3 separate regions of the Homo sapiens genome follow, and regions 2 and 3 are each linked to region 1. The links come from fine-mapping of genetic effects on gene expression. A gene starts in region 1. Each other region holds a variant in brackets. All regions are shown on one strand. Distances are between the middles of the regions. Region 1 holds the start of C10orf143 (chromosome 10 open reading frame 143). Region 2 overlaps C10orf143 (chromosome 10 open reading frame 143). Region 3 has its middle 63 kb from the start of C10orf143.

The links. PIP is the estimated chance that this variant, and not a neighbour inherited with it, causes the effect.
Region 2: its variant is fine-mapped to the expression of C10orf143 in whole blood (TOPMed, PIP above 0.99). The same link has a PIP of 0.9 or more in atrial appendage, caudate, fibroblasts, pancreas, stomach and subcutaneous fat.
Region 3: its variant is fine-mapped to the expression of C10orf143 in whole blood (TOPMed, PIP above 0.99).

Annotation. Positions count from the first base shown.
Region 1 is chr10:130,107,079-130,117,218 of GRCh38, reverse strand. C10orf143 (chromosome 10 open reading frame 143) reads left to right here and starts at 6,389. Exons shown (of 4, transcript NM_001355042.2): 1 at 6,389-6,515. The coding sequence starts at 6,447. LOC102724883 (a long non-coding RNA gene) reads right to left here and starts at 5,926. Exons shown (of 3, transcript NR_188169.1): 1 at 5,103-5,926; 2 at 3,837-3,901. It also overlaps the pseudogene CTAGE7P. RefSeq lists enhancers at 5,085-5,214, 5,695-6,024, 6,885-7,064, 7,225-7,334, 7,925-8,184 and a silencer at 6,315-6,694.
Region 2 is chr10:130,068,352-130,078,491 of GRCh38, reverse strand. The region is part of intron 3 of C10orf143 (chromosome 10 open reading frame 143); the gene reads left to right. Among named protein-coding and RNA genes, the nearest start is that of C10orf143, 37 kb to the left of the region's middle. The variant C/T (reference allele first, on the strand shown) is at 4,887.
Region 3 is chr10:130,042,898-130,053,037 of GRCh38, reverse strand. It overlaps a transcript of C10orf143 not described here. Among named protein-coding and RNA genes, the nearest start is that of C10orf143, 63 kb to the left of the region's middle. RefSeq lists enhancers at 3,168-4,052, 8,166-8,665. The variant A/G (reference allele first, on the strand shown) is at 5,749.

The DNA.
Region 1 (10,140 bases):
TGAGAGATACTTCCCTTGAAGGTGGTGTGCAAGATGACAGTTAGTGGTGCATAAACAGGTATTTATTTATTTATTTATTTATTTATTTATTTATTTATGGCAGGGTCTTGTGTTGCCCCAGCTGGAGTGCAGTGGCGTGATCATGACTCACTGCAGCCTTGACCTCCTGGGCTCAAGCGATCCTCCCACCTCAGGCTCCTGAGTAGCTGGGACTACAGGTGCATGCCACCACACCAGGCTAATTTATATATATATATTTTTTGTAGAAACCAGGCTCTCCCTATGTTGCCCAGGCTGGCCTAGAACTCCAGAGCTCAAGTGATCTCCCCACCTATGCCTCTCAAACTGCTGGGGTTACAAATGTGTGTCACCATGCCGAGCCATGAGAAACAATTTTTATTTTATTTTTAGAGATGGGGTTTTGCTTTGTTGCCCATGCTGGTCTTGAACTCCTGGGCTCAAGCGATCTGCCCTCCTTAGCCTCCCAAAGTGCTGGGATTACAGGTGTGAGCCACTGCACCTGGCTGAGAAACTTTTATTTTAATAACGTATTTTTTATTGTGGTAAAATATACATAAGATGAAGTTTGCCACCTTAACTATATTTAGGTGTATGCTTTAGTAGTGTTAAGTACATTCACAATGTTGTGCAAACATCACCATCATTCAGCTCCAGAATGTTTTCATCTTCCCAAGCGAAAGCTCTGTACTCACTTAACAGTACCTTCCCATTCCTCCTCCTCCTCCCAAGGCCCTGACAATCACCATTCAACTTTCTGTCTCCACACCTTTCACTATTCTAGGCAGCTCATATAAGTGGAATCATAGTTTGGACTCTTTGTGATTAGCTTATTTCACTTAGCATTACATCTTCAAGGTTCATCCGTGTTGTAAAATATGCCAAAATTCCCTTCCTTTTTAAGGCTGTGTATTATTCTACCATATATATATATATATATATATACAGTAGAATATTATATATATACACATACAGACCACATTTTATTTATCCACTGATGGACATTTGGGTTGCTTCCAACTTTTGGCTATTGGGAATAATGCTGCTATGAACACGGGTGTACAAATGTCTGTTCTGAGTCCCTGCCTTCAGTTATTTTGTGTATATTCCCAGAAGTGGAATTTTGGATTACACGGTAATTTTATTTTTAATTTTTTGAAAAAACACCACACTGTTTTCAACAGTGGCTACAGCATTTTACATTCCCACCAGCCATGCACAAGGGTTTCAATTTCTCCACACCCTAGCCAAAACTTGTCATTTTCTTTTTCTCTTTTTTTTTTTGAGAGGGGGTCTTCATCTGTTGCCCACGTTGGAGGAGTGCAGTGGCACAATTTCAGCTCACTTGCAGCCTCGACCTTCCAGGCAATCTGCCCACCTCTCAGCCTCCTGAGTAGGTGGGACTACAGGCGGGAGCCACCATACCTGGTTAATTTTTGTATTTCTGTTTTTTTGTAGAGATGAGGTCTTGCCATGCTGCCCAGGCTGGTCTCAAACTCCTACACTCAAGTGATCCGCTCAGCTCAGCCTCATGAAGCTCTGAGTTTTCAGCCATGAGCCACCCACCATGCCCGGCTGCTTTTTTTTTGAGATGGAGTCTCGCTGTGTCACCCAGGCTGGAGTGCAGTGGCACGATCTTGGCTCACTGCAACCTCTGCCTCCTGAGTTCAAGCGATTCTCCTGCTTCAGCTTCCCGAGTAGCTGGGATTACAGGCCTGCACCACCACACCTGACTAATTTTTGTATTTTTAGTAGAGACAGGGTTTCACCATGTTGGCCAGGTCTTGAACTCCTGGCCTCAAGTGATCTGCCTGCCTCAGCCTCCCAAAGTGCTGGGATTACAGGCATAAGCCACAGTGCCTGGTCACTGTTTTTTTCTTTTTGATAATAGCCATCCTAATGGGTGTGAAGTGGTATCTCAATACGGGTTTGATTAGCATTTCCCTAATAACTGATGATATTATCTTCATGTGCTTATTGGCTATTTGTATATCTTCTTTTGAGAACTGTCTATTCAAGTTATTTGTCTATTTTTCTGTTTTGTTTCTTTTTTGAGACAGGGTCTCACTTTGTTACCTCAGATAGAGTACAGTGGTGAGATCATGGTTCACTGCAGCCTCAAACTCCTGAACTCAAGTGATCCTTCCACCTCAGCCTCTCTAGCAAGAGGCTAATTTTTTGCTTTTTGGAGAGACAGGGTCTTGCTGTCTTGCCCATGCTGGTATTTGTCCATGTTTTCAATCAGGTTTTTTGTTGTTGTTGTTGAGTTGTAGGCATTCTTTTTTTTTTTTTTTTTTTTTTGAGATGGAGTCTCGCTCTGTCATCCAAGCTGGAGTGTAGTGGCGCAATCTTGGCTCACTGCAACCTCCGCCTCTCAGGTTTAAGCAATTCTCCTGCCTCAGCCTCCTGAGTAGCTGGGACTACAGGCACACACCACCACGCCCGACTAATTTTTGTATTTTTAGTAGAGATGAGGTTTCACCATATTGGCCAGGATGGTCTCGATCTCCTGACCTCGTGATCCACCCACCTCGGCTTCCCAAAGTGCTGGGATTATAGGAATGAGCCACTGCACCCAGCCAGGTATTCTTTATATAATCTGGATATTAACTCCTTATCAGATATGCGATTTGAAAATATTTTCTCCATTTCCTGGGTTGCCTTTTCACTGGATTAATAGTGTCCTTTGATGTACAAAATTTTAAATTTTGATATAGTCCAAATTATTTTTTTCTTTTGTTGACTGTGCTTTTGGTGTCATATGCAAGAATCCAATATCATGAAGTTTTCCCATATTTTCTTTACTTTTTTTTTTTTTTTTTTTTTGAGACGGAGTCTCACTCTGTCACCCAGGCTGGAGTGCAGTGGCGTGGTCTCGGCTTACTGCAACCTCTGCCTCCCAGGTTCCCAGGTTCAAGAGATTCTCCTGCCTCAGCCTCCCGAGTAGCTGGGACTACAGGCACGTGCCGCCACCACCATGCCTGGTTAATTTTTTGTATTTTAGTAGAGACAGGGTTTCACCATGGTGGCAAGGCTGGTCTCCATCTCCTGACCTTGTGATCCACCTGCCTTGGCCTCCCAAAGTGCTGGGATTACAGGCTGGAGCCACTGTGCCTGGCCAATTTTTCTTTCTTTCTTTTTTTTGAGATAGAGTTTTGTTTTGTCGCCTAGGCCTGGAGTGCAGCGGTGTGATCTTGACTCACTGCAACCTGCGCCTCTAGGGTTTAAGCAATTCTCCTGCCTTGGCCTCCCAAAAAGCTGGGATTACAGGCATGCGCCATCATGCCTGGCTAATTTTTGTATTTTTAGCAGAGACAGGGTTTTGCCATGTTGGCCAGCTGGTCTTGAACTCCTGGCCTCAGACAATCCGCCTGTCTTGGCCTTCCAAAGTGCTGGGATTACAGGCATAAGTCACTGTGCCTGACCTCCCATATTTTCTTCTAATAATTAATCTATTTAACATATTAAAATAGTGAGCATTCAAACCATCACTTTATAGATGTCACATATTATTTTTAAAGTTTTTCAAACTTAAGATATTGAGAATTTAAATAAATATACTATGTAAATAATAGGAGAGGTTTAGCATACATCTTGCAGTTAGTACCCAAGTGACTGATGCTTGGTAAATACTGTGCTAAGCTAAACTGCATCCTTCTAAATATACCTATTGCTGTATCTCATTCCTAAGCTAAGCAGTCCCCCCCCCAGTACCCAATGGTTGCCTCATGCATCCATTTAAGAAAGACAGCAGACCAAAACTGGAGTCACTAAATGCTAAGGATTCATGCTACCAAACTGAAACCTGGGTTGCTTACTTGTAAGATCTTCTGAGAAATCAGGAGAGGGATGAAAGCCAAATTACATTACACCAAGATTTCGTCTACACCTCTATAAGGAAAGTAACCTTGAAATGACTGATCTGCTATTTGTTCATTCTTCCTGCTTTCCTCCACTTTTTCCTGCCTGTCAAACTCACCCACTCGGTCCTCATTGGAGCACCTTTCTATCTTGTAGACTGCCTGGTGCATGCAATGCTATTAAAAACCAATCAGATCTTTGAAACTAAATTTGTTGAAATTTTGTTCTTATACACATCTGAAAAGCAGCCATCAGTATAAAGGCCAGCGAATCAAAAGTGGGTAACAAAGCAAGTCATCTAATCTAAACTGCAAGACAAGCATTTTGAGAGGCCTACAACATACCTTATTTTCAATTCTGAAATGCAGAAAGTCCTCCAAATTAGTTTTTCCCCACGCTTGGAGTAAACTCATTTGAACTGATATGAGACTATTTACAACCTTTATTTATTTATTGTATTTATTTTATTTGAGACAGGGTCTCACTCTATTGGCCAGGCTGGAGTGCTGTGGTGTGATCACAGCCAACTCACTGCAGCCTCAACCTTCCAGGCCCAAGCAATCTTCCCACCTCAGCCTTCTGAGTAGCTGGTACTACAGGTGGGCGCCATAGTGCCCGGCTAATTTTGTTATTTTTATTTTGTAGAGACGGGGGTCTCACTGTGTTGCCGAGGCTGGTCTCAAACTCCTGGGTTCAAGCAATCCTCCCGCTTTGGCCTTCCAAAGTACTGGGATTACAAGCATGAGCCACTGTGCCTGGCCCTATTTACAACCTTTATATATCCCACTTAGGGTGAATATTTGTGAATACTCACACATTTCTGCTATAGAAACATTGTTTGACTACGGGGGCATACAATATATCTCACCTTTTTTAAACATTCAAAAAATTCTGAATTTCACAAACACATCTGGCCTGAAAGGTTTTTGATAAGGGACTGTGAATCAGTGGTGGCATAATTAGTCTTAGGAGTACTAACTAATAGGAGAAATGTTACATTTGTTAAGTACTTAGTTTGTGTCCAGCATTGTTCTAAGTATCTTCTAGGTAAATGCCTCATGTAATCCTCACGATCTCTATGCTTTATCATCCTATCCTTTATAAATGAGGAAACTGAGGGAGATTAACTATTTAATTTGCTGAGGATCATGCAGCAAATAGCCCGAAGAGGGATTCATGCGTTTCACCATAATGGTTAAGAACAGGGCTTTGTCAAAGGATACCTTCAACTGCAGCAGAATGATGGACTCAAATCACAGAGACACGACAAAGTGACGGGTAGTCAGCTGTGGGTTGGTTCAGAGGCTCAGGCTGTTCCGGCTCTAGGTGATTTCCTGCTTTCCTAGGGTTCCCACCAGCTGCCCTCATGGTGACAAAAAGGCTGCTGCAGCTCCAGGAAACTTACACTGGGCAAGGACAACAGGAAGAAAACAGCCCCCACCCACCCAACTCCCCTTTTAACTAGAAGATCTTTCCCGAAACTCTGCCTCAACAGACCTCGCTTACTTCTCCCTGGCCCGTACTAGGTCGTGTACCCATCGTTAGCCAATCGCTGGCAACGGATTGGCCCCGTTTTAATTTATCCAAAAAAGGCGCCAGTCTGGGCTGTTTGGAGCAGTCAAGGGAGCTCCGTGCTAAGGCAGGAGGGGCCTGGACATGCGGCTGCAGGAGTCCGGGCCTCGGTGCCCTAAGATGAGGGCTCAGTGGTGCTCAGCACCGCGCCGGGCCAGAGACTGAGCCGCCGCCGGCTGTTGAGGGTTGGTTGGCTGAATCCCCGGCAGGGGCCAGGCGGAGCGAACATCACCGCGGCAACTGCCTCCACAGCACACACTCCCGACAGTGGCTGCGCTTTTCCCCTTCAGCACAGCCCAAAGGCCCCGGCAGCTCAGCACCTGCGACCTCCTAGTGCCCTCCAGCCTACGGAGGAGTAGAAGTCCTTCCGGGGCCTCCCAACCAGCAGCCACCAGCCACCAGCCACAAAAGCCGTGAGCCGCGCGGGGCTGGCCTGAAAGCTCTGCGTCTTCCCACCGCGGCAACAGCAGCTCCCACCCGGAAGCGAGGCAGCCCTGCGGACCACAACTCCCAGAAACACCCGCTGTCTCGCTCAAGCTAATTGACCCGCTGCGCCATCTATTAGCCAACCAGCCACAGGGAGACGGCTCCCCACGAGGCCTAACAACCAATCATAAGACAGAGGAGGCGGGCGCTCCTCCAGCCGATCCACGGGGTGTTGTCAAAAGTTTGGCGGGATCCTGAAAGAATGCTTTCTTTAGAGCCCCACGGCTGCTCCTGTGAAGGGAGAAGCGACAAGCAGAGATATGCAGGGACCTCTCTGCGAAGTAATGACTTGGGGCAGACGGACAACGCCCACAGCATCCCAATAGTCTCAGAAGACTCTGGTCTCTGCTACTCCTGCCTGCGGTCCTCGCCTTGGTGCTCTCGCGCTTCCCGCGGCGTCCCGCCCCTCCCTCTCCTTATTGGCTCCCCAGGGCCTTGTGCGGAAGGGGGCGTGGTGCGCGGGCCTCGGCCAGGCCTGAGATGCCGGGAGGGTTTGACCCTGGGGCTGCATGGACAGCTTAGCGCTCGGCCGCTGGCGACAGCGGAGGGCGGAGGATCTGCAGGTTCCGGGGGACGTGGTGAGCCCCCGGGGCCTGGGCGTTAGGGACGGGAGGGCGGATGGCCCCTGGGCGGGTTCCCACCGCGCCTCGTTTTTGCCGGCGCGGCCCTGCCTGTGAGGAGGCCTGGCCCAAGACACTCGCACGCTCGCGTACGTCCCTGGGAGGGCGTGGCCAGTGATGGGCGTGGCCTGTTAGGGCGGGGTTGTGACGCCGCTCTCCCGGTTTCGCGCCTGCGCGGTCGGGCGCGGAGCTCGGGCACCTTCCTGACCCACACGCTCACTGGGGCTCCAGACCCAGGCTCCCTAAAACATGGGCCGAGACTCATTGCAGGACCTCGGGTGCTTGGTATCCGTGTCATGTCTTCTCCTGCCGTCTACACCTGACTGTTCCTGAGTCTCGTTCACTGAGCGCCTGCCACGTGCCAGGCCCAGGGCTGGGTGTTGGGGGACGAGTACGTGGGGAGCGAACACGCGCAGAAAATTACCCGGCATTGAGCGTGTTAGTGCTTCTTGGGCTGAGTCCATTAACTGATGAGCAGAGGGTAAGATGAGATGGTAATGGGGAGACTTGCACAAGATCCCAGGGTGCGTGGGTAAGTCAGGTATGTGTGAGACTTGAAGGATGACCGGGGGTAGGCAGGATGGGAGGTGACAAAAAACAGTGTTGGAGGAAGGAGCTTAGCGTCTTAGGGGCACTGAAAGAAGTACTGCAGGATTGGAGCTGGAAGACAGAGCTGCTTGGCATTCCTGTATTTTATCTTCCACCTCTGCTTGCAAATTGGCCAGTTCTTACTTAACCTCGTTTATTTCAAAGTTCCTCGCTAGGGGCAGCAGTGAGCAGCCAACATACCGCATATTTGCTTTTTTTTTTCTTCTAGAGCTACACAGGCTTGGTAAGTGCAGGATCCGTCTTCCCAGTTAATACAGGCAGCATTTTTTTAGATGTCTTTACTGCGTAGCGGGAATGACTAGCTTTCTACCCTGCACCATCTCTTTCCTCACTACTCACTGCCTGGCCGTGAAGCCAGTACCACTTAGGTTTCTATCACAGCCGCACCCCTCCTCCAGGTACCAATTGTTATATTACTAGGGTGCAGGTTACCCCAGTAATATAGTAATAATATGGTATAGTAATGTAGTATAGTAATAGTATAGTACAGTAATATAGCAGGTTAGGGTGCTTTTGTAACCAAGAGCCTTCAAAGCACGCTGGCCCTAACAAGATGGAAGTTTGATTCTCCTGCACAGAACAGCATGGACGTGAGCAGTCCAGTGGGGTGGAGCCCAGGGTCACTAAATATAGGCGTAGGGCTGGTGGTACCCAGATCAGGGGATATGCGGGGACCTAAGTTCCTTCCCCTCACACCATCCCCTGGGTGTCACCCTCCTCTGCATAGCCAAGGGTGGCTCACTGCTACTGTGCTACCAGATGGCAGAAAAACAAACAGAAAAGTGACATGATTATGCTGATGTGTTGAGACCTTACTTCACTGCCCTGGAAAATGAAAGGTGTGATCAGGGTGCAGGCAGGGAGGCAAGGCTTGTGGCTACAGTAGTGTGTCAGAGGAGAAGTGGCAGAGGTTTGCACAAGAGAGGGCAGTGGGGTGGTGACACTAGAGAGACGTGACTGTGTAGAGGGAGAGCAGACAGTCTCACTGATGGAGTGGCAGTGGCAGGGTAATGTGAAGAGTGGAGTCCAGGGTGTTGTAGGGGTTGACTTGAGCCCTGCGAGGGCAGTACTGCTGCTCCTTGAGAGAAGAGTGGTGTGGAGGCAATGAAGAGCTCCTGTTAGGCCATGCTGTGTTTTCTGCGACTTTGAGACGTTTAGTGGAGACGTGGCAAATACTGCTAGTGATTGAATGGTTATCATGTGGATTATCTGAATTTCTTTAATCAACTAAAATTTATTTAAGCATAAAGTTACTTTCACATTTGTCTACACCTACAGTAAATACAGTTGTTGGCATAAAGACACAGCCTTTAGAATTTAAAGCCTCCCCACCTGCAAGATTACATACGTAAAACTCCCACTGTTGTTTCTATAATAGTGGATTAATCAAATTAAAATAGTTATACTATCGAATAAAATACAATGGAAATAATTTACTTATAAGATTCATATTTAAATCATCCTTATTTACAAAATACTATCCTAAGAATTATAATTCCATTAAGTTTCAATTTGAGCAAAAGTGTAATCACTTAAGTAACAGCAGTTACTTGAAATGAGATCAGTCAGAATTACTTTTGAAGAGAGCAAAAATATTGCCAGGTATCTTGCTGCGGTTTTGGATGTTCCGTAGCAGGCTCATTTGAAGGCGGAATCAGCCCTGAAGGGAACTCACTTCTACCTTCAGAATGTGGGGGTCGGGGGAAAAATCCAGGTCTTGGGGGAGGGTAAGGAGGAAAACCCCTCGGTGGATAGACATTTCTCATTGCAAACGGAGCATGTGGTGGACCTGGGAAATCCCCTGGTGGAAAATAATCTCGAGAAGCTCCAAACCTGGTTCCTGGAGGAGGTGGGGGGAAAGGAGGTGCTCTTCTCATGAACGGGCCCCTTGTATCCACTGGAAACAGTGGACCTCTGATTAGGGCAAGAGGTGGAGGAACAAAGCGAGGGCCAGTTGCTGCATTTTCAGCAGGGAGAGATGAATCAGGGATATTTAAATTACCAAGATCATCTTTGGTGTCATTTCTACTGGATTCCATTTCTGAAGGCATTGACCCATCCATTTTATCCAAAGGAGGCATATTAAAACTTCTGAGTTCTGCTGGTCCAGACAGTCCACCAGAGTTAGAATAAAATCTGTCTTGCCTTTGTGGAGGAAGAGCTGAATCAAGATATGATTGCGCTGGTGGAGGAAACATCATCCTACGGTCCTGTTCCCTCGGAAGTGACAGGGACCCAGTGTCAGAAGGAGACCTGTGAGGATCGGTTAACCTTTCACAGCTTGATTCTCCTCTTTCCTTGGTAATCTGATGGTCCAGAGGATTCCCTGGGCCTCTTGAGCCTCTTCCTTCCCCCCCTGGAGGCAAAGGTGAGAGTCTGAGTGGACCCTCCAACAGAGTTGCGGGAGAGAGAAAAGCTCTCGTTTCAGATGAAGGCCGACCCAATGATGAGGGACCATATGGGGAATGCTCTCTGCCAAATGCTGTATTTGGAACATCAAGTACATAAGGATCTTTTTTTAGAAGTTTTATTTTATACTCTGTTTCAGCTAATTTTTGTCTGTTGTGAGCATTTTCTTTCCTTAAATCATTGAGGTTTCTTTCAGCAGCCCAAGCTGCCAACCAGTTATGATGTGCCTTTTTCTCATGGGAAATAATCTGCCGTTGATAATAATGAATAGTTCTCTCCAATTCTTCTTCAAGATCTTTGGCTCGCTGTCTGTAGGTCTCCAGCTCTTTAGTGGCATGGCTGATCTTTTTGTCTACCTTAGAAAGTTTCTCTTCTTTCTCTAACCGGCTATTTTCCTCTACTGTTAATTTCCTGTAGAGTTTCATTTCATTTTCTTGATATAATTCAGTCATTACTTTAAGTTTCTGTTGAAGCTTCTGATTCTCACTTTCAAAATGTGTGTTTTCTGACTGCAAAGATGCTTGTTCAGTCCGAAGATTTTTAATATGCTCTGTAAGCTCTTCCT
Region 2 (10,140 bases), 39 kb after region 1:
AAAGATCCAGCAACTTGAATTTAGTATGCTTATGTTGATTCATGTAACTGTTAAACATACCCTAGAATACAAACGAATAATGCTTACTTTGAGAACTATGCCTCCATTGGGGTTGCATTCCTTGTTTGCCGATGACTGACCGGTGCCTTCTTTGTCCCCACCCCATTTCCATGGAATGTATCTTTCACATCCCCCCATCTGTTGGAAGCAAACACTTGGAATGTAGTACAGATTCTTACTGCTTTGAGAGCTTGTGTTCTGGCATGAATGGCTTAAAGAAAAAAAAAATTTAGTTCAAGCAACTGATTGGATCATTTTGGCTAATATTCTGTTTGAACAACAGTACCTATTTGATTAGGGTTTTTCCTTTCTTTGTAATTCCCCAAGCTTGCCTCTGTTATGTTTCGTAGGAAATGAATCTATGAGCAGAAAACCTTCATTGATATGTAAATATCATTTTTTTGTTAATACTCAATATTCTTTTCATCTAAATTTCAGAAACTGACTTTAAAAAATCAGTTTCCTTTTATTTGTAGTTATTCTCAATAAAATTTCACCCAGGCTTGGGCGTTTTAATATTTACACCCACTACTTCTGAAAGTCTAATGTAAATAAAGATTGAAATGTGAATTTGAAAAGTCACACCTCTTGATATTTGAACAGACTATAGCTGCATATATCTTCTTCTTCTAATAATATGGCTAGTTTCTCTCCTAAGCTTTTAAAATAATAAGACACTATTTTTGTATTATAAAACATCAAAAGGTTCAGTGTTAAATAAAAAGCAAATAGTATTTTTAGAGATGCAAGATCCCTGGGAGTCGTGCTTAACAATAAATCACCAATGGGGCACAATTCCAAATTTCAGAAGACTTTATTAAACTTGCAGTTCCATTCACAAATGCCTGCTTACACGTGGGCCTGCCCACTCTCCCATGATGCCCGTAGGCAGCTCAGAATGGTTCTCTTGGTCAGAGAGAAGCCAAGGTGATGTGAGGGGTAGTTTGTGTGGAATTCCTAATGGGAAACTTACATGTGATTCTCAGTTTATTTGGTGGCTGTTCTCCAGTAAGCTCCCTTGCATCCTGAATTCTCTAGTGTATTTTTGACCTTCGTAGGATGTCAGCTAATCTGATCTGTTCTGCTCTGAATTCTCAGTATAGCCGTCTGAGCTTGGTGGTCCTTCTGTTCCTAAGCTTTTCCTTATGTTTATGATTGAGTTGTTTCTCACACATACAGGGTTTTGACATTTTCTCATATGCAAGGACTTCCTCGGTAGACCTCTTCAACCTCATTTTCCAAGTTTGCATTTCGGTCTATTTCTGTTGACTCATTCTGGCGTATTGTAACCATTGTTACAATGGTTACTATTTCAGGAGTGACTGAGGTGGTTTCTTATAGTAATTACTGTTAGGGTTTATCTCCTGCTGTACATTATTATTTAGGACCGTCACCTCGTAGCCCTGAATCACCCTGCTCATGTTACTGATGATCGAAATGAATGTGGTGGGACCCAGTCTTGCAGCATCAGGGCGTCCGCTCCTGCCCAGGGTCGGGCTGCTTGCTCTCCCTGTCATGTGCTGTCTGGGGCTGCAAGTCTCGTAGAGGATGATCGCCATGGCTAGGAGGCTTCCTTTCCTGCCACCAATGGCTCCCATGCTGGACAGTCACCTAGGCTGCAGGCTTCCATTCCCGGATCGCGCGGCTTGCGTGTGCACAGGCCACACGGTAACCAAGTGTGAAATGGAAATGAAGCTGCTCCTTGCAAATTCAGAGCAATTAAATGAAACCTTAGGGGTCTGCCAGAGGTCTCCAAAATAATCAAAAGAAGGTACATGAAAAGGGGAGGAAGGCTTATAAGGCAGAGAACTGTAGAAAGGATTTAGGATATTGGTTGAGGGGAGATATGATGATATTTCCTCAGCACCGTGTTTTCCTAGTGGTCTCTGGTCTCTGACGTTTTGTAGCCTCTCAGTGCTGGAATCCTCTGGAGAAGGGGCCACCCTCAGATCTTACTGGGTCACTGGTCAGCCTGTTGCCTGTTTTTTTCTCAGCTCCGACCTCCTTTGTCTGCCCCTCCTCTGTGTTGTGGAGACTGTTTCCCAGACTCCTTTGCTTCTGACTTCTGGGAGAATCCAGCCAACGTGAGGCATTGGTGGGACACAGGAATGTGGGGGAGAAGGAGGAGGAGGCCAGAGCATTTCTCTCTCTCTCTAGCCCTCCCGCAGTACATAGCTCCTGCAGAGTAGTCCCTCTGGGCCCATCTCTTGCGAGGTCCACCTCCTCCTCCCTTTGTCCTCCTGGTGAGTGTTTGGCTCCTGTAGTAGTCCATTTTCACATCGCTATAAAGAACTACCTGGTGCCTGTAATTCCAGCTTGGGAGAATGAGGCAGGAAAATCGCTTGAACCTGGGAGGTGGAGGTTGCATTGAGCCAAGATTGCGCCATTGCACTCCAGCCTGAGTGACAGAATGAGACTCCATCATTTCCAAAAAAAAAAACAAACAAACAAACAAAAAACACACACATACACACACAAAAACTACCTGAGACTGGATAATTTATAAAGAAAAGAGATCTAGTTGACTCACAGTTCCACAGGCTGTACAGGAAGCATGGCTGGGAGGCCTCAGGAAACTTACAATCCTGGTGGAAGGTGAAGGGGAAGCAAGCATGCCTTACCATGGCAGCAGGAGAGAGAGAGAGCGCCAGAGGGGAAGTGCTATGCACTTTCAAACAACCAGATCTCATGAGAACTCACTATCACGAGAACAGCAAGGGGAAGTCCGCCCCCATGATCCAGTCACCTCCCACCAGCTCCCTTCCAACATGTGTGGAGTATAATTCCAGATGAGATTTGGGTGGGGACACAGAGCCGAACCATATCAGCTCCCCCGTTTGGCTTCTCATCTCTTCCATCATTTGTGTAGCCAAATCTTGTTACAGTCCCTCTGTTTGAAATATACCTAGATTGGTTTCTGTTTTCTTACCAGCGCTAATCAGCTAATGAATGGACAGATTCTCCTGGGGAGGAAAGTTGCTGTTTCTAACAGAGGTCTCCGGGCCTGTATTGTCCCCTGCAAGGGCTCAGTCAGTAGTCCGCAAGCTTGGCACTCCAGAGTGCTGGCAGGGCTGATCCTGGTGATAAGCCACATGAGTCCCGAGAGCCTGGACATGAAAGTTAAAAATACAGTCAGGCCCTTCAATGTTGCCCATCGCTAATGCTCCTTCGCTGCCTTTTATCTGTGGTTATTGGTTTTTATTACTCAAACGGGTAGGGAGTTACCACTGAAAAGCCAGCATGCAAAACATGGTGTTTCCTGGTGCCATGGAGTCTCCGCTCCCCACGTTGATTCTGGATACCAGCATTGTCATTAGCCTTATCTTTTTTTCTTTTTTTTTTCATTGAGGGCAAATAGCAAAGGAGCAGTCTTAATAAGCCTCCGTATTATTCACTTTTTGACATTGAAATCTATTGCCTGACAACATTTGTGTGTGTGGTATATATGGTGTGTGTGCATGTGTGTGTCTGTGTACATATGTAGTGTGTGTGCATGTCTGTGTGTGTGGAGTCAGCCAACGTAGGAGTAGAAATTGAGGGCAGGGGAAGGGAGGTGTTTGGTCCAAACCTATTGTTTTGGTTCAGTTTTCCCTTGTAGGGACACCAGGAGGAGCCAAAGTATGATTATTCTGATTCTAAATGGATGCATTTTTTCTTTGTATTTCTTTTTATCTCCAAATGGGTTACCTTTAAAGTATTTCTGTTTATTTTGTTTACATATTTGTACATTATTGGTCATTGCTTTCTACACCTACATCATCTATAAATACTGCACTAGAACAGGAAGCCTTGGAACCCAGTGATCTCTGCCCTCCTCTGGTGCCTGCAGTGACGGCTGAGAACACTGCCTGTGCTTGCTAGGGCGGGTCCGAGTGTCAAGCTGGGGACGGGACCAAAGATGGAAATGTAACGTTCTGATATCGATGAACAGAGATCGATGCGCAGTGCCCTGCTCTTTGTGTCCTGTCTCGGCCACAGCTGATAGCAAGCATCCTTGTCAGTTCTTTCTTCTTCTGTCCTGAGAGAAGAAAACACAATCATGGAGGGATCAACGGGAACTTCATTGATCATTCTGTAAGAATCAAGTTGTGCTCCATGCATTTCTACCCCCAGGTTTGTCAAGGATCCTGGAGTTCATTGGTCTAACCCTGTCAATTTACAGATAAGGAAAGTGAGGTCCCCAGGGGCTAAGCCATTGGACTGCCATGCACCGTGGTTGATGGGGAGGCAGGGGCCTGAGCACTCTGCTTGGAGCCCCCTCTGCTTTCTGCTCTTTTTGGCTGATCAGTGTGTTTGCAGTCAGCATGCCGGCATCACTCCCCAAGACTGGCGGCCCAGCGTCAGGCTCGAACACCCTATGAGAACTGTGGCAGTGACAGTGCGGGTTTTTGTGGACTTCATCCCCGGACACAGTGAGAAGCTCTTGGCTAAGACACAGGGCTGATTTACTCACACTGTGAGGGAATAAGCTGGGAATGGAAGAGTCTGGCTGTGTCAGTATAGCCAAATACGAATCCCAGAATAGATGGGTATGAATAGACCACTGACAAAATCTTCAGATTTAGCATCTAGCAGTAGCTGACAGTGAGTACTTTCTCTGGAATATGGATATTGAAAAACTACCTTTAAAAAAATTTTTAACTGTTATTTAGGTCATTTTCTGGCACTGAAGGAGCTGAGGGGCTTCAGATGACTAGAAGAAAAAAGAAACAAGTTCAATTTAGACTTCCTACAAACATGTTAGATAAAACCAACACAGATGTGTCCCCCTCCTGCTGCAGAGACTCAAGGTAGACTCTGATAAAAAAAAAACACACAGCTGATCA[C/T]GTAATAGGCGAAGAGAGAAAACAAAAGTAGTGCCGTTGGGACCAACACACTCTTTAGTGGCCGTTCCTGGGTCTGGGTACTTGTTGGGTTTGGTCCTAGATTGCACCCAGGGCTGGGAACTGGAATGCTCACGTCCAGAGATAGATGTGGTTTTGGCCTAACAAAGGTGTGGGAGCTAGAATTTGGATCCTTGCATAAAGTTTAGAGCCTGAAGATCTGATTGTACCCTAAAAGGGGACTGGAAATTACAATACCAGGCCATGCATGGGTATGGGCTCCAAGTTTATTTTATCTCAGTCATACAGGAACCAAAAGTAGAAGCCCTGCCATAAAAACAGTTGCAGCCCATTGAAGTCCTGAAGGCCTTGGGTGGCAGCAGGTGCAGAACTGTCCTGTAGGCATGCCTCCACCACCCAGTGTGTAGGAGATTTGGAGATAAAACAACCCCCACGGAGGATAAGATCACACTAGAAAAATAAGCACATAAACAAATCTACCACCATGGTGAGAAGAGGGGTCAAGAAATAAACAGTAGAATCAAAGTCTCTAACAATCTGAAATAATTGAAGAACCTGAAGGTGGATATAAAGTACGGGCACAACTCATTTTATTGCACTTCACTTTATTGTGCTTTGAAGGTACTGTGGTTTTTACACATTGAAGATTTGTGGCAACCTTGCATTGAACAAGTCTGTTTGGTGCCATTGTCCCAAAAGCATATCCTCATCTCATGCTTCTGTGTCAGCATTTTAAAACAACAAAGTATTTTTAAATTAAGGTGTGTACATATTTTTAGGCAGAATGTTGTTGCACACTTAATAGACTACAAGCATATTGTAAACAAAACTTGTATATGCACTGAGAAACCAAAAAATTTGTGTGACTCACTTTATTGCAGTGTTCTGCAACCAAGCCTGCCATGTCTCTGAAGTATCCTGTAGTTATTTTATAAAATGATTAAAGAAGAAATAGAGCCATAGTAAGAAAGGAAGACAGTTTGAAAAAAAATTGGAAGGTTTTTTTAAAAAGAACTAAAAGTGCATGATATGTTCATTGAAGTTTTTTTAAAAAGTCATCAGATTAGACACAGTTAAAGACAGAATTAGTGAATTAGAAGATAGAGCTGGATAAATCCCCCAAGCACAGCAAGAGAGATAAAAAGATGGATAGTATAAAAGTGTAATTAGGAGTCATAGAGGAAAGAATGAGAATGCCCATTAGGAAATCCAGAAGGAAGGACTTTAGAGAATGTTTGAGTAGAATAGTTGAAAAGATAATGGCTGAGAATTTTCCAGAATTGAAGAAAGGCATATGTGGTCAAACAATTTTGAAGTAGAATAACAAGCAAGGGAAATTATCCATCAGATATCAAGATATATTACAAAGCTGTGACCATTAAGACAATGTGTTAATTGGCCTAAGTGTAGACTAACCAATGAAATAAAATTGAGATCTTTAAACATGCATATATGGCAGTTTGAAGGCATTATAAATGAGATTTACATACACCTATAAATTGTGCCAGGGCAATTAGTTATCCATATATGAGGAAAGATAAAATTAGATCTCTGCCTCACACAAAATCAATTCTAGGAGGTGGGAGGTGGGGGTGGGAGTTAATAAGAACCTATATATGAAAGAAAAACCTTTAACATTGTTAGTAGAAAATATAGAATATGACGGCCAGGCGCGGTGGCTCATGCCTATAATCCCAGCACTTTGGGAGGCCAAGGTGGGCAGATCACCTGAGGTTGGGAGTTCAAGACCAGCCTGACCAACATGGAGAAACTGCATCTCTACTGCAAATAAAAAATTAGCCAGGCATGGTGCATGCCTGTAGTCCCAGCTACTCGGGAGGCTGAGGCAGGAGAATCTCTTGAATCCAGGAGGCAGAGGTTGCGGTGAGCCGAGATTGTGCCATTGCACTCCAGCCTGGGCAACAAGAGTGAAACTGTGTCTCAAAAAAAAAATATAGAATATAACTGTATATATTAAGACATGCTACATATCAGAATTCTTTCATCATTGTCTAAGAAAAGCTTTTTGCAGGAAAGATATTTACAATGCACAAAATATAAAGATGGGTTTCTTGAATAAATATGCAAATCAGTCCAGTAAATAAATGGGCAAAGTATATGACCTGGCAGTTCAGAGAAGAGGAAACCCAAAATAGCCAATAAATATAAATAGGTGTTCAACCTTACTAGTAATTTAAGGGCTTGCAAATTAAACCATCAAATTAGCAAAAATAAAAATGGTGCTATAACTGTGAGTGAGGTAGAGTGAAAGGATGTGTTCACTTCCTCAGAAGCCATGTACATGGGTAAAGCTTATGGTGGGCATTTCTGGTAAGCTAGAAGATATGGTCCTAGGTGTATACCCTAGTAGATGCCCAAGAAAGTGTATACAAAATATTTGTTGTATTTGGGAGGCTGAGGCAGGCAGATCACTTAAGGTCAGGAGTTTGAGACCAGCCTGGCCAATATGGTGAAACCTCATCTCTACTAAAAATACAAAAAACATTAGCTAGGCATGGTGGCGCATGCCTGTAGTCCCAGCTACTCAGGAGGCTGAGGCAAGAGAATCACTTGAGCCTGTGAGGTGGAAGTTGCAGTGAGCCAAGATCCCACCACTGCACTCCAGCCTGGGTGACGGAGCAAGACTCTGTCTCAAAACAAAACAAAACAAAATATTTGTTGTTGCACTGTTAGAGTAAGAAAAGCCAGAAACAACCTAAATGTTCATCAATAGAATGAATAAATGAATTGCAATAGATTTACTCAATGAAGTGTTACAGAGAGCAGTGAAAATGGATCAAATCAAATGGAGAAAAAAGGAAATTACAGAAGGATCTACGTAGAATGATACTATCTAGATACAATTTTAAGCATGGGAAACATTGATATATATCTACTAAAGGAATAAAAACATTTATGAGAGTGGTAAACAACTTCAAAATAAGGGCGTTATTTCTACTGAGTGGAAGGGCTCAGGGTGCAGTGTTTTGGTGATATCTAATGTTTTATCCCCTAAGTTTTGTGAGTCTTGGGTGTGATGTATCCACACATAGATAGGTCATCATGACACTGGAGGACATCAAAGGCAGAGAAACGTGTAGAGCTGCTAGAGAGAAATGACTGGCTAAGCATGAAGGGATGATAATTTGACAACAGATCTCTCATTAGTAGCAATAGATGCCAGAAGAGCTTGGAATGCATCTTTGAGCTGCTAAGGGGACTGCACTGTGACGTGCATGTGGACAGGCTGCACCAGGTCCGGGGGTGCGATGGCCACTGCAGTGGGGTTCCTCTCCCCACCCCAGAAAATTCAGTTACCAAAACTGACTCAAGAACAGAGAACAGAATCAGATCAGTAACAATGGAAGGATCTGGGAAGGTTATCAAAAAGCTCCCATCACAGGGATTTTACAGATTTTAAAAACCCTGTATGAAAGAACACATGGATGATTTAACATTAGAAAAATGACTGCATTGTCTGATAAAAGGGAAAATAGAGATCATCTGTTACATGCAGCAACAGCATACAGTCAGATGCGAATCCCATTCATGATATATATTTAAAAACTCCACAAACCAGAAATAGAAGGCTTTCTTCTGGTAAAAATTAAGGACGTGATACTTAGTGGAAGCATCTGTGTTGAAGAGAAAAGGACGAGGATGCTATTAGCACTTCTGCTCGGTATGCTAGGGCTCCTAGCTGGCATAATGTGATAAGAAAAAAAAAAAGAAACAATGGACATAAGAATTGGAAAGAGAAAAATCTAAATTGTTATTTCCAGATGGTATAATTATCTACATAGAATATCCAAGGCTGACCACAGTGACTCATGCTTATAATCCCAGCACTTTGGGAGGCTGAGACAGGAGGATTGCCTGAGCCCAGTAGTTGGAGGCTGCAGTGAGCTATGATTATGCCACTGTACTCCATCCCAGGCAGCAGGGTGAGACCCCATCTCTTAAAAAAAAAATTTTCCAGAAAATCTGCAGATAGACTAGTAGAACTAATATCCAGCAAGATTGTTGAATATAAGATGAACACACAAAAATAGATAGACTCTTACTTACTGGTAACAGTCAATTAGAAGAACAAAACTCCATTCACATGGTTGCAGCGTGAGGATGTAAGTTACTATCTAGTGTTCTGTATTTCATCAGCATTTCTTGTAAGGCAAGTCTTCTAGCGACAGATTTTCTGTTTTTGTTTATCTGGGGATGTCTTAATTTCTCTATCATTATAATTTCAATGTCGTTTGGTTTTGTTGGATATTGAGGAAAGGCATATGTGGCCACATGGTTTTGAAGTAGAGTAACAGGTGCTGACAGTCTTTCTTCTGGCACTTGGAGTATGTCATCTGGCTGCCTCTCACTCCATGATGTCTGATGAGAAATCAGCTGTTGGTATCACTGAGGCTCACTTGCACATAGTATGTCGCTTCTCCCTTTCTGTGTTCAAGATTCTTTGGTTCTAGATCACTTTGTTATGATGTGTTTAGGTGTGGATCCCTTTGGGTTCATGCTAGTGGAAGTTAATTGAGTTTCTTGTATATATAGATTAATGTTTTCAAATCAAATCTGCGAAGTCTTTGGCCATTATTTTAAAAATACTCTTTCTGCCCTTTCTCTGTGTCCTTTTCCTCTGAGACTCCCGCTTAGAGGTGTGTTGGGACACCTGATGGAGCTGCACAGGTGTCTTCGAAGCTCTGTTCATTTTTCTTCGCTTTTTTTTTCCTGTTCCTCAAACTGGATAATCTCAATTGATTTTGTGTTCACTAGTTCTTTCTTCTGCTTGCTCAAATCTGCTGTTGATCCCCGTTAATGAGTTTTTAATTTCACTTATACTTCTAAACTGTAGAACTTCTGTTTAGTTTATATGTATAAAATTCTCTCTTTATTGATAATTATCTATTTGGTGAGACATCATTCTGCTTTTCTTTAATTCTTAATCATAATCTTCTTTTTTTTTTTTTTTTTTTGAGATGGAGTTTTGCTCTCGTTGCCCACGCTGGAGTGCAATGGCATGATCTCAGCTCACTGCAACCTCCGCTTCCCAGGTTCAAGCGATTCTCCTGCCTCAGCCACCCAAGTAGTTGGGATTACAGGTGTGTGCCACCATGCCTGGCGACTTTTGTATTTTCAGTAGAGATGGGGTTTCACCTTGTTGATCAGGCTGGTCTCAAACTCCTGACCTCAAGTGATCCACCCACCTCGGCCTCCCAAAGTGCTGGGATTACAG
Region 3 (10,140 bases), 64 kb after region 1:
GTAACAAAACTCAACATTTTGCCACTGCCTGCCCATAGTTCCTCTGTATACACAATTCATAGAAATGTGCAAGACTCTGCCCACTTGGTATTCCTGTTTGGCTGCAAAGGTTTACTGTACGAATGACCTCCACCACTACTCGACTAGAGTTAGCTGTTTGGAAAACATTCTTAGAACATGCATTGTTTTTCTCTTCAGAGTGAATGCAAGAATTTTCAAATGCTCTACTAATAATTTTCTTTATCTTCAAGGGTACTGAGAGGACCATGAAAGAGTAACGCTGATTAGTTGACCGATAGTCTTATTCACTGGTGTCCTGGTCTAAGCTCTTCCTTTAATCCTGTACTTTTATTAAAATAGCTCCTGATATTAAAATAGGCAGCTTACGTTTGTGATTAGATAGGTACAGTAAAAGTCTATGATGACAAGGTGAGGGGGTCCAAAGATTCAGCTGTGTAACCTCAAGTGTCCTATGGGGCTGACGCAGGCTGGGGCAGCCTCCTCAAAGCTGGTCTGGGCGTGAGACCCAGCTTGCACCTCACGTGTCCTGGCTGTGTCATCTGGGGGCAGTAACTATCCCGGGGATGCTTCTGGGTGTGGGGGACTGTGCTTGGTGCTCCCGGCTCCCATGGCTACCTTCTCCAGAGATCGCCCTGGTGGTTCAAGCTGCCTCACCTGGAGGTACCTGGAGTCACCCTCCATGATTGGGTGGCCCAGGGGTGACCGCTGTCCTGTGTGGGGTACATGGACCCCCACTTCTTTGCCTCAAGGAGCTCCATAGAGCAGCATGTGACCCCCATCGGGCTCCCGTCCAGGTTCCTAACCCAGGGCAAAAGTAGAGAAGCTATTTTATACAGGCCGGAAGGATGTATGGTGGTGGCCTCCTGAGGTGGGGGCGGGAGAGGGAGATGAGACTCTTAACTAGGTGGGGGCGAGAGAGGGAGATGAGACTCTTAACTAGGTGGGGGCGGGAGAGGGAGATGAGACTCTTAATGAGGCAGGGGTAGGAGAGGGAGATGAGACTCTTAATGAGGCGGGGGTAGGAGAGGGAGATGAGACTCTTAACTAGGTGGGGGCGGGAGAGGGAGATGAGACTCTTAACTAGGTGGGGGCGGGAGAGGGAGATGAGACTCTTAATGAGGCAGGGGTAGGAGAGGGAGATGAGACTCTTAATGAGGCGGGGGTAGGAGAGGGAGATGAGACTCTTAACTAGGTGGGGGCGGGAGAGGGAGATGAGACTCTTAACTAGGTGGGGGCGAGAGAGGGAGATGAGACTCTTAACTAGGTGGGGGCGAGAGAGGGAGATGAGACTCTTAACTAGGTGGGGGCGGGAGAGGGAGATGAGACTCTTAACTAGGTGGGGGCGGGAGAGGGAGATGAGACTCTTAACTAGGTGGGGGCGAGAGAGGGAGATGAGACTCTTAACTAGGTGGGGGCGGGAGAGGGAGATGAGACTCTTAACTAGGTGGGGGCGGGAGAGGGAGATGAGACTCTTAATGAGGCAGGGGTAGGAGAGGGAGATGAGACTCTTAATGAGGCGGGGGTAGGAGAGGGAGATGAGACTCTTAATGAGGCGGGGGCGGGAGAGGGAGATGAGACTCTTAACTAGGTGGGGGCGGGAGAGGGAGATGAGACTCTTAACTAGGTGGGGGCGGGAGAGGGAGATGAGACTCTTAACTAGGTGGGGGCGGGAGAGGGAGATGAGACTCTTAATGAGGCGGGGGTAGGAGAGGGAGATGAGACTCTTAATGAGGCGGGGGTAGGAGAGGGAGATGAGACTCTTAATGAGGCGGGGGTAGGAGAGGGAGATGAGACTCAACAGCCACTGAAGGAAGGTGAGCACAACGGTCACCGTTTGCTAAGTATCACAAAAGCAAAAGCAAGTATGACCAAGTGTTAACAGTTAATTCTGGTGAGAACATGGATGTTCGCTATGTATTGTAGTTTTCCATTTTTTGTGTGTTTCAAACATGAACCTTGAATAAATGGCAAGTTGGCTTAGCAGTGGAATCTAAGGACTGTAATCACAGCCAGCGCTGCACCTGTCCACGCACGGGCCGGCGTGTTTTGCACGTAACAGCTCAGTGGTCCCTCCACAGCCTGAGATGGGACCATCATCCATGTTGGAGACAAGGAAGTCGGGGCACTGGCCAAGGCCACACACCTGCCTATGGCTGAGGTCAGTGCTCCAGCAGGAACTGACCCCAGACGGAGAGGCGCCAGGGTTTACATCCCGTGTTAAGAGCTGATTCGGTTGCCACATGCTCTTTATATTCAAAACAATCTCTTAGAATAATTTCTTAAATAGCATCTGAGAGAGAATGCATGCTTCTTTGTTTATGTGAAATGAACTCAGATGCTCCCTATGGTAATGGAGGTAGAAACGGCATGTATAGATGTTCAAGTTTCTTTAAAAAAACACATTGTTTTAAGGCCTTACTACCCGTTATTTTCCATTTTGCCTTTATTTTGTGACTAAGATGATTCTGATTATTTTATTTATGTATGAATGAATGGACAGGGTCTTGCTCCGTTATCTAGGCTGGAGTGCGGTGGAGCAACCAGGGCTCACTGCAGCTTTGACCTCCCATGTAGCTGGGACCACAGGCGCACGCTGCCACGTCTGGTTAATTTTTGTTGTTGTTCAGCCATGTTGCTCAGGCTGGTCTTGAACTCCTGGGCTCAAGTGATCCTCCCGCCTTGGCTTCCCAAAGTGCTGGGATTGCAGGCGTGAGCCACTGCACCCAGCTGAACCTATTCTTAATGAGCCTCAGAACTTGGGGAGCCACAGCCGCAATTCTGCACTTGGCCGGGGCCAGCGAGAGTGGAAGTTTGGGTGTGAGCGTGGCCCATTCCTGCTTCTCAGTCATGCGCCTGCAGCCTGCCAGGAATGTCTCGCCCAGGCGGGTCCCACCACCTGTTTTCTGTTTTTGAATCCTGCCCCGCCTCCCGTTTTTCCATTATGGCTGATGATTTTCTCCTGGGTATAAAAGCTATCCATGCACACTGTCGAGGCCCTGAAAACACAGAACACTTGGAGATGAGATTTTAAACCACTCAATTTCATCACCGATGGTTTTACAGCCATCGGTGTATTTTCCTCTTTCTCTCCTTTGATTCTGTAGCAATACCATCTACAAGGATAGAAATTCAAATTAACATCTTGAATTTTTCATTTAATATTTAAGTCATTTCCTTTGACTTTTAAATCTCCCTAATTGTTATTTTGGTGAGGTCTTCCAATTCTAAAAACCCAGACTCAGTCCTGCCGGTGGAATGGTCTCCCTCAGGACTCAAAGCGCCTCTTTCTACATGTTGTCTGCAAAAGAACTGTCACTGGTAGCAGCGACAACAAAGTGACTGCGAAGTCAGCGTGAGTTGGCCACAGCGTGAACCCAAAACCCCTGTAGGTTCCCTTATCAGGACCCACCTTTGAGCACCCACCGGTCTGAGTGGGGGCTCCGGTCCCCAAGCCCCTGCCCAGGACCAAAGGGTACTCAAGCATCTTCCCGGGGCTGGTTCAACAAGGGCCCCTCCAGGTGGAGGCGATCTGGCTGGCCCAGGGGCTGCCCGGTCTGCCGCACACCATGCTTGTCCCACCCTGGATGGCACCCGGGGCATGTTTTCCACTTGGAATCAGTCGTTTGGAGCTCCGGCTCTGAATAAATGAGCCACAGAGTCACAACACAACAGGGTGGCGAGGGGCCCCTGCACAGTGTTCCCTCCAGTGGCAGAGGGGGAGCTTGCCCGAGCCCCCATTGCTCAAAGATGCCTGCTGTCTCCATGATCGCCACTGGATGATTTCCCTGTGGATGGAGATCCAACATAGGAGGTGCAAACGCATGAGCCCAGGTGCTGCACCTGACATTGCAAAGGAAGCCCGGGCAGTGGGCTGGCAAGGAGCACAAGCTGGGGCTTGTCTCTCAGGGGTAAACCTGGGATAGTGCTGAGAGAAGGAGCCCCGGAGTCCTAGGGGCCAGCTGCGGCCTTGCACATTTCAGAGCGTCTGCATTTGGTTATATTAAGAAAATGGAGCTGGGCACGGTGGCTCACATCTGTAACCCCAGTGACTGGGGAGGCCGAGGTAGGAGGATCCTCTGAGACCAGGAGTTGGAAACCAGCCTGGGCAATATAGCGAGACCCTATGTCTAAGAATAAATAAATAAAACTAACTGGGTATGGTGGCGCATGTCTGTACTCCTAGCTGCTTGGGGGACTGAGGCGGGAGGATTGTTTGAGCCCAGGAGTTCAAGATGACAGTGAGCCATGGTTATACCACTCCACTCCAGCCTGGGAGACAGAGGAGATTCTGACTCTTAAAAAGAAGATGTCTCTCAAGCTCATGGCTTCCTCTGCATTGCGTGGTCTACAGGAAGACTTGGTGCACCAGAGTATCTGGAGCTTTTGTAGCCGTGGGGCTAGTAGGTGGCCCTTGGAGCCTAAAAGTGACCGAGGTCCCTGCACGTCTCAATTCTTTGGGCTCCCATGGATCTGGAACAGCTGAATCCACTTGCCCTGTGACGTGAGTTGGGGACTTGCAGGGACCCTGGTGTCCCAGCAGAGGGTACTGGGGACTTAGGCGAGTGTGTATCCAGCCAGTCACAGGCTAGGTAATGATGGGGCTAAGGAGGGGGATGGCAGAGATTGGGCGCCCCAGGAGAGAGGGAACCTACTCTCAGCCAACCTGGCCAGTAGGAGGGGCACCCACAGACTGGGGCTCTTACCCTCTGTCAAGGCAGGTGGGTCCAGGGAGGGACCACAGCCAGGTCATCTTTCCCCTGGGCCTGCTGTCCTGCAGCTGTAGGGGTGAGCTGGACAGCTGACCCCCAGACAGCCGTCATATATCCACAGAGGGCTGGCAAGCCTGCTGTCCTCCCCTTCCTGCCTCCTCCTCCCTGATAGCTTCCATCTGTCTGCTTACTGGGCTCCAGGGCACCAAGATGATAGGGGGCCTGTGATGCCCCATGACTGGGATGAAGTCCTGTGATGAGCCACAGAGGCAGAGGCAGGAGACAAATTGCAAATAGTATTGAGGGGGAGACACTTGGACCAAAAGTCAGGCTGCCAGACTGGAGCACTCGATTTTTATCTGGGCTTCAAAGGCAAAAACAGCTGGCCTCCAGAAAGGAAGCACATCTGTGCTTTAGGGGAAGCCACCTTACTTTCCTGGTGATAAATCCGAAAAAAAAAAATGTTTCCAGTGGGTCTTTATGGAAATGACATTGATGGGAGGAGGAGAAACCTGGGTTTGGGCATCTCTTATGGGCACTAGAGGCCAAGGCCACCATGTTAAAATAGAAGGATGTGAAAGTATGTCTCAGGGAGCTAGGGTCACGTGGCCTGGGTGTCACCTGTCCATGGGTTTAGGGACAGGAGTGAAAGAGAAGGTGGACCCCTCATCATTCAGCTCAGCTGGCTTCGTCCGGGTCTGACCAGCTCTGGACGCAGGAAGCCTGGAGTGCGGGGGGCCTTAGTAAGTTACTTAGTGCAGGAATCCAGGAATTTGAGAAAGCGGCTGCAGGTTGAGAGCTGTGGGCATCATCAGGGCATTAAGGCAGCCTCAGGGAAGGTGGGCTCTGGAGGCTTCCCTACCAAGTACGCAGCCCCGCTCAGTGCCTTACACAGACCCTCCCGCCCCAAGCCCTGTGCTGATGCTGGGGCTGAGAGAGAGCGAGGGAGCAGACTGCCTTTATTTCCCTTGCAATAACAACAGGAACAAAATAGCTTCACTTCCTACCTGCAGCCAGT[A/G]CTGTAGCACTTTACTCCATGGAAACTTCATCCCCACGGCAACCCCATGGGGTCCACACCAGGCTCCCCTGTATGATAACACCAGGTCCAGAGCAGCTGCAGAATGCACCCAGTGCATCCGCCAGGCTCACACAGGGGATTGGGTGGCTGCTTTTGGAGCCCATCTGGATATTGGCAGGAGCCTAGACCAACCTCAGTGCCGTGATGTGACAAGCCAGCTGACCACTGTGGATGCGAGACACATCTCTTCCAGTGAAACACCTGGATTATAGTGTGAACGCCTTTCCTTGCAACTGAACAACCGTACTGTCTGTTGACTAGAATACAGAACGTTAAAAAGCAAGTGTGCACGCTTACACACACACGCCTCAGGGGTGGGCTCACACTGCCCACTTCCCCACTCTGTCACCCCCAGAAAGGTCAGGGAGCTCCCCCTGGGGAACGTGACTGGCGCCTCCTGGGAGAGTTAGGCCTAGGCGCTGCATAGACGCACGGATTAAATGAACCTCCGCGTGCAGGTGAGCGGGCGGCGTGGGCGAGCTGGTGGCCTCAGGTGCATGGCCCAAGGCCCCTCCCAGAAAGGACACGCCCAGCCCGCAGCGCGGAGACGGCAGTTTCCATATTTAAAGGAGCATGGCCGGCTTCCTATCTGAAGTGTGTTTCCCCGGAGAGACCACCACCATTTGATCTATTTTTGATTAAAATGTAAAAATTAAAAATTAAATCAAATGGTAGCATAACTCCTCGGGGAAAACACACTTCGGTTATGAAGAATTCCCTGCAGTAACCCCGAGACTCTTACGGCAGCATTGTCTCGTCTGTAGGTGGTCTTTTTATGTCACACATAATTAAGAGGAATTGCAGTGAGAACCACCGAAGACTGCCTTCCGTGTGGGGTCCCGCAACTGGCGCTTCTGGAGCAGGTCCCGGGGGAGGCGCTGGGCGGGGGAGCGGCGTGCACAGGTGGGGCTGCCCACCTGCAGGGAGCCCGAGAGTGCGCCCTGCGCCACCCATTGCCGTGCCCCCGCGTCCCGTCCCTCGTGTCCCACGCCGAGCCTCGCCCCACCCGCTCCACCCCACTCCGCGCCACGCCCCGCGCCCCACTCAGGCCCCACTTAGCACCTCTCGCCCCACTCCTCGTGCCCTGCCCCTTCCTGTGCCCCACGCCACGCCCCGTCCCACGCCCCGCCCCATCCCCATGCCCTGAGCCACTCCCTGTTCCACGTTCCGTCTGCCCTGAGCCCTACCACGCGCATCCCTCTGTGCCACGTGCCCCACGCCCAGCCCCACCTCCCATGCCCAGAGCCCCACCCTGGTCTCAGTCCAGCACCTCACGCCCGGCAGGTGAGGTCGCGTACTCGGAAGGTGGCTCCTTTCTCCCCCGCACGTGGCAGGCACGTTCTCCACACGACGGATTCCCCACAACAGCCACGACCGGAGCCATCAGACTTCCTGGGAGTGGAAGCCACAGGTGACACGGACCTGACTGCTCCTTAGCTGAGCCTCGAGTCGAGGCAATCGCATTTGCTTCCACGTTTTCCCGCCCGCGTGGCGGGACGTGGCTGTGACTTTCTGAGTCGTGACTTCAGGTCCAGTTGTGTGGGGTGTGGCTGGACATACCATGGCAGCCTATTGACACCTTGGCTGCATTTATTTTTTGACATCTCTGCTTCAAACGAAAATGCCAGAGAACAGAAACGTTCCCGGAACGAAGGTCTGGAGGCAGCTCCCAGGGGCGCCTCGCGGTTTTGGGGCGTGGCGCTCGCGGGGGGCGTCCTGGGGGTGCAGCTGCAGTGCTGCGGGGCGGGGCGTTGCTGCCACTGTCTGCGGGGCACTGTGGGCGGGGCAGCAGAGTTGGGGCTGTATGGTTCGTCACCTGCTAGTTTCAGTCCGAAGACATTTGACGCCTGTGCGGGTTTCCTTTTCTGTTGCCAAAGGTTCTGGAAGCAGGACCTCGGAGTCGGGAAGGAAATGCATTTCAGGAGCCGGGAAGAGCAGGCCCCGCCGACCTGCAGGCAGAGGGCGCAATGCCTGGCGAGGTGCCTGCCCAGAGCCTGCCTGCCCTGCAAGAAAAAGCCATTTGGAGGCGCCAGGTGGCCAGTACTGGGACAAAGCTGTTCCTTGCCCTCAGGAAAGCCAGACCCACGCTGGGTCAGGTCCTAAACTTTCTCCATGGGGTGGGTTTTGTTCACCTCCACAGGCAGTGGGGGCCCCTGGACCCCAGAGAACAGAGGGGACGGGGGGACAGGGCAGGAGGGGCCGGTAGGGAGGCATCGGGGTGTGGCAGGCACTGGAGCATCAGCCACATGCCAGTGATGGGCCGGTAGACCTGAGCTCCAGCCTAGGTCTTCACCTCACTGAGTAAGGACCCTGCTTGCAATCCGCACACCTATGCGCAGGGCTGGGCATTGCTGTTGGTAGTAATGGCCTCTCTGTTTGCACCTCTTGTCCCACAAGCCATAGGAAGCCCTTTCTGGGGTACACAGGTGGCAAGGGTACATCCCCAGAGGAAGTCTGGACTTCCCAAGGCTGACAAGTGGTCCGTTGACAAATGGATCCACCGGGTCATCTGGTTCATGATTTCCCTTCCATCATGCTGGCAACTTGCACGCACCCCTTCCATCAGAAGCCAAATGGGATTTAAGAGCCAAGCATCCCTTTCCCTGACTTTGCTCATCTGCAGCTGGGTGCACTTTGTAGCCCAGCGTGATGCCTTTCCGAGCCCTTAGCAGAGTGACCAGCTCACCTCAATGAAACCCCCTTCCTCAAAGACCACACCCGGGGTTCCCAGCCCCTGGCTCCCTGGCAGCCCTGGCTGGAGCAGAGCCTACCTGGCAGGTAGATGTGGAAGGAAGGAAGAAAAGCAAGCCTGGGAGTGAAGGGAAGCCCAGGCTGGGCTGGGCTGGAGGAGGCGTCATGGGGTGCAGCCAAGACCTCTCCACTTTCCTCCTCCAGCCACATCCGCATATCCTATTTCTTAAGTCACAGGGGATCTCACCTCCAGTTCCCAGCTCGGCCCCCATCAGGCTCAGCCTGTTCTCAAATGTCTCGGTCACTTTTCCCGCCAAGGCTTCTCCTATCACAGTGCACCAGTGGGTGGCTCCTCAGGGGCAGTCCCCAGACAGCATCCCCACAGCCTTGCAAGCTTTCCTGACCAGGTTCACATGTTGGCCTGGTCAGACTGGAGGAAACCAGCTGTCCCAAGCTAAAGTCTTCTCCTTCTTTACCATCTCTCTCTCCCTCTCCCTTCCTCCCTCTCCCTCTCTCTCTTTCTCTCTCTCTCTCTCTCTCTCCCTGCCATGGTCTGCAAAGGCCCCTGGGCACTGTCCAGGTGCCCAGGCTGAGCCCCAACCCTAAGAGTGTCACCTCTGTAATGTGCAGAAACTAAAAAGCCTCCCATCATGACGAGCTACAAGTAGGTTCCACCTGCAAGAGGCGGAGCTCCACATTGCTGGGGCATCTGCTCGTTCATTTTGGTTTAACTGTCAGGATGGACGGTGCCCTTGTTATGCCAAGGCAGGGCATAAGCACCTCTGGAACAGTGGGGTGGAGATGCTTCAACTTCTGGAAGACCACACCCCTCGGGGAGAACATCTGGGTATCAGGCACAGGAAAAGGCATGTCTGACTCAGCGGGAGAGCAGGGCACCTGGGGGTGCTTATGGGGTTTGTTCCCCCAACCTGCCCCTTGGTCTGGGCGTGAGTGCCATGGTTGAGGAGGGGAGAAGAAGACCAGGGCTGACAGAGGGGTTGGGGAGAGACTTTCTGCTGCTGGAACGAGCAAAGTTGCTGAGCTGCCCAGAGAGAGAAGCACAGTACAGAGGGGCGGGGCTTTTTCCCACCTGCCCGTCTTGGTAATGGGCATCTTGTAAAAATCATACTTTCCAGTGGGTTATGGCTGATATTTAGGAGGACTGTTAGATTTGGTGTGTTTTGTGTCTAGCCAGCTGATAACCTTTCCAATTTGCTTTAATATGTTAACGCGTTCTCTTCAATTTTCCAGGAATACCAGCATGTTTATAAGTAATGATGATCAATTTTTTGCCGTATAACTCCTTGGGAAAACACACTTAGGTTATGAAGCATTCCCTGCGGTAACCTTGAGACTTACGGCAGCATTGTCTCATCTGTTGGTGTTTTAATTATATCAGCTGCTTAACTTTCTTATTTTAAAAAACATATTGTTATGGAAAATTCAAACATACTCAAGCATGCTAGGCCAGTGAGCCTCCACGCCCCTCACCCAGCTGCAGTGAGCATCAGCGTTTTGCAGGCTTGCTTCCGCACTGTCTCCGAGTTTTTTCCTGGAGTGTATTAAGGTAATCCGTAATTCCACCTTGAATACCTCAGTATGTGTCTTTAACAGATAAGGGTATTTTGCCACGACTGATAC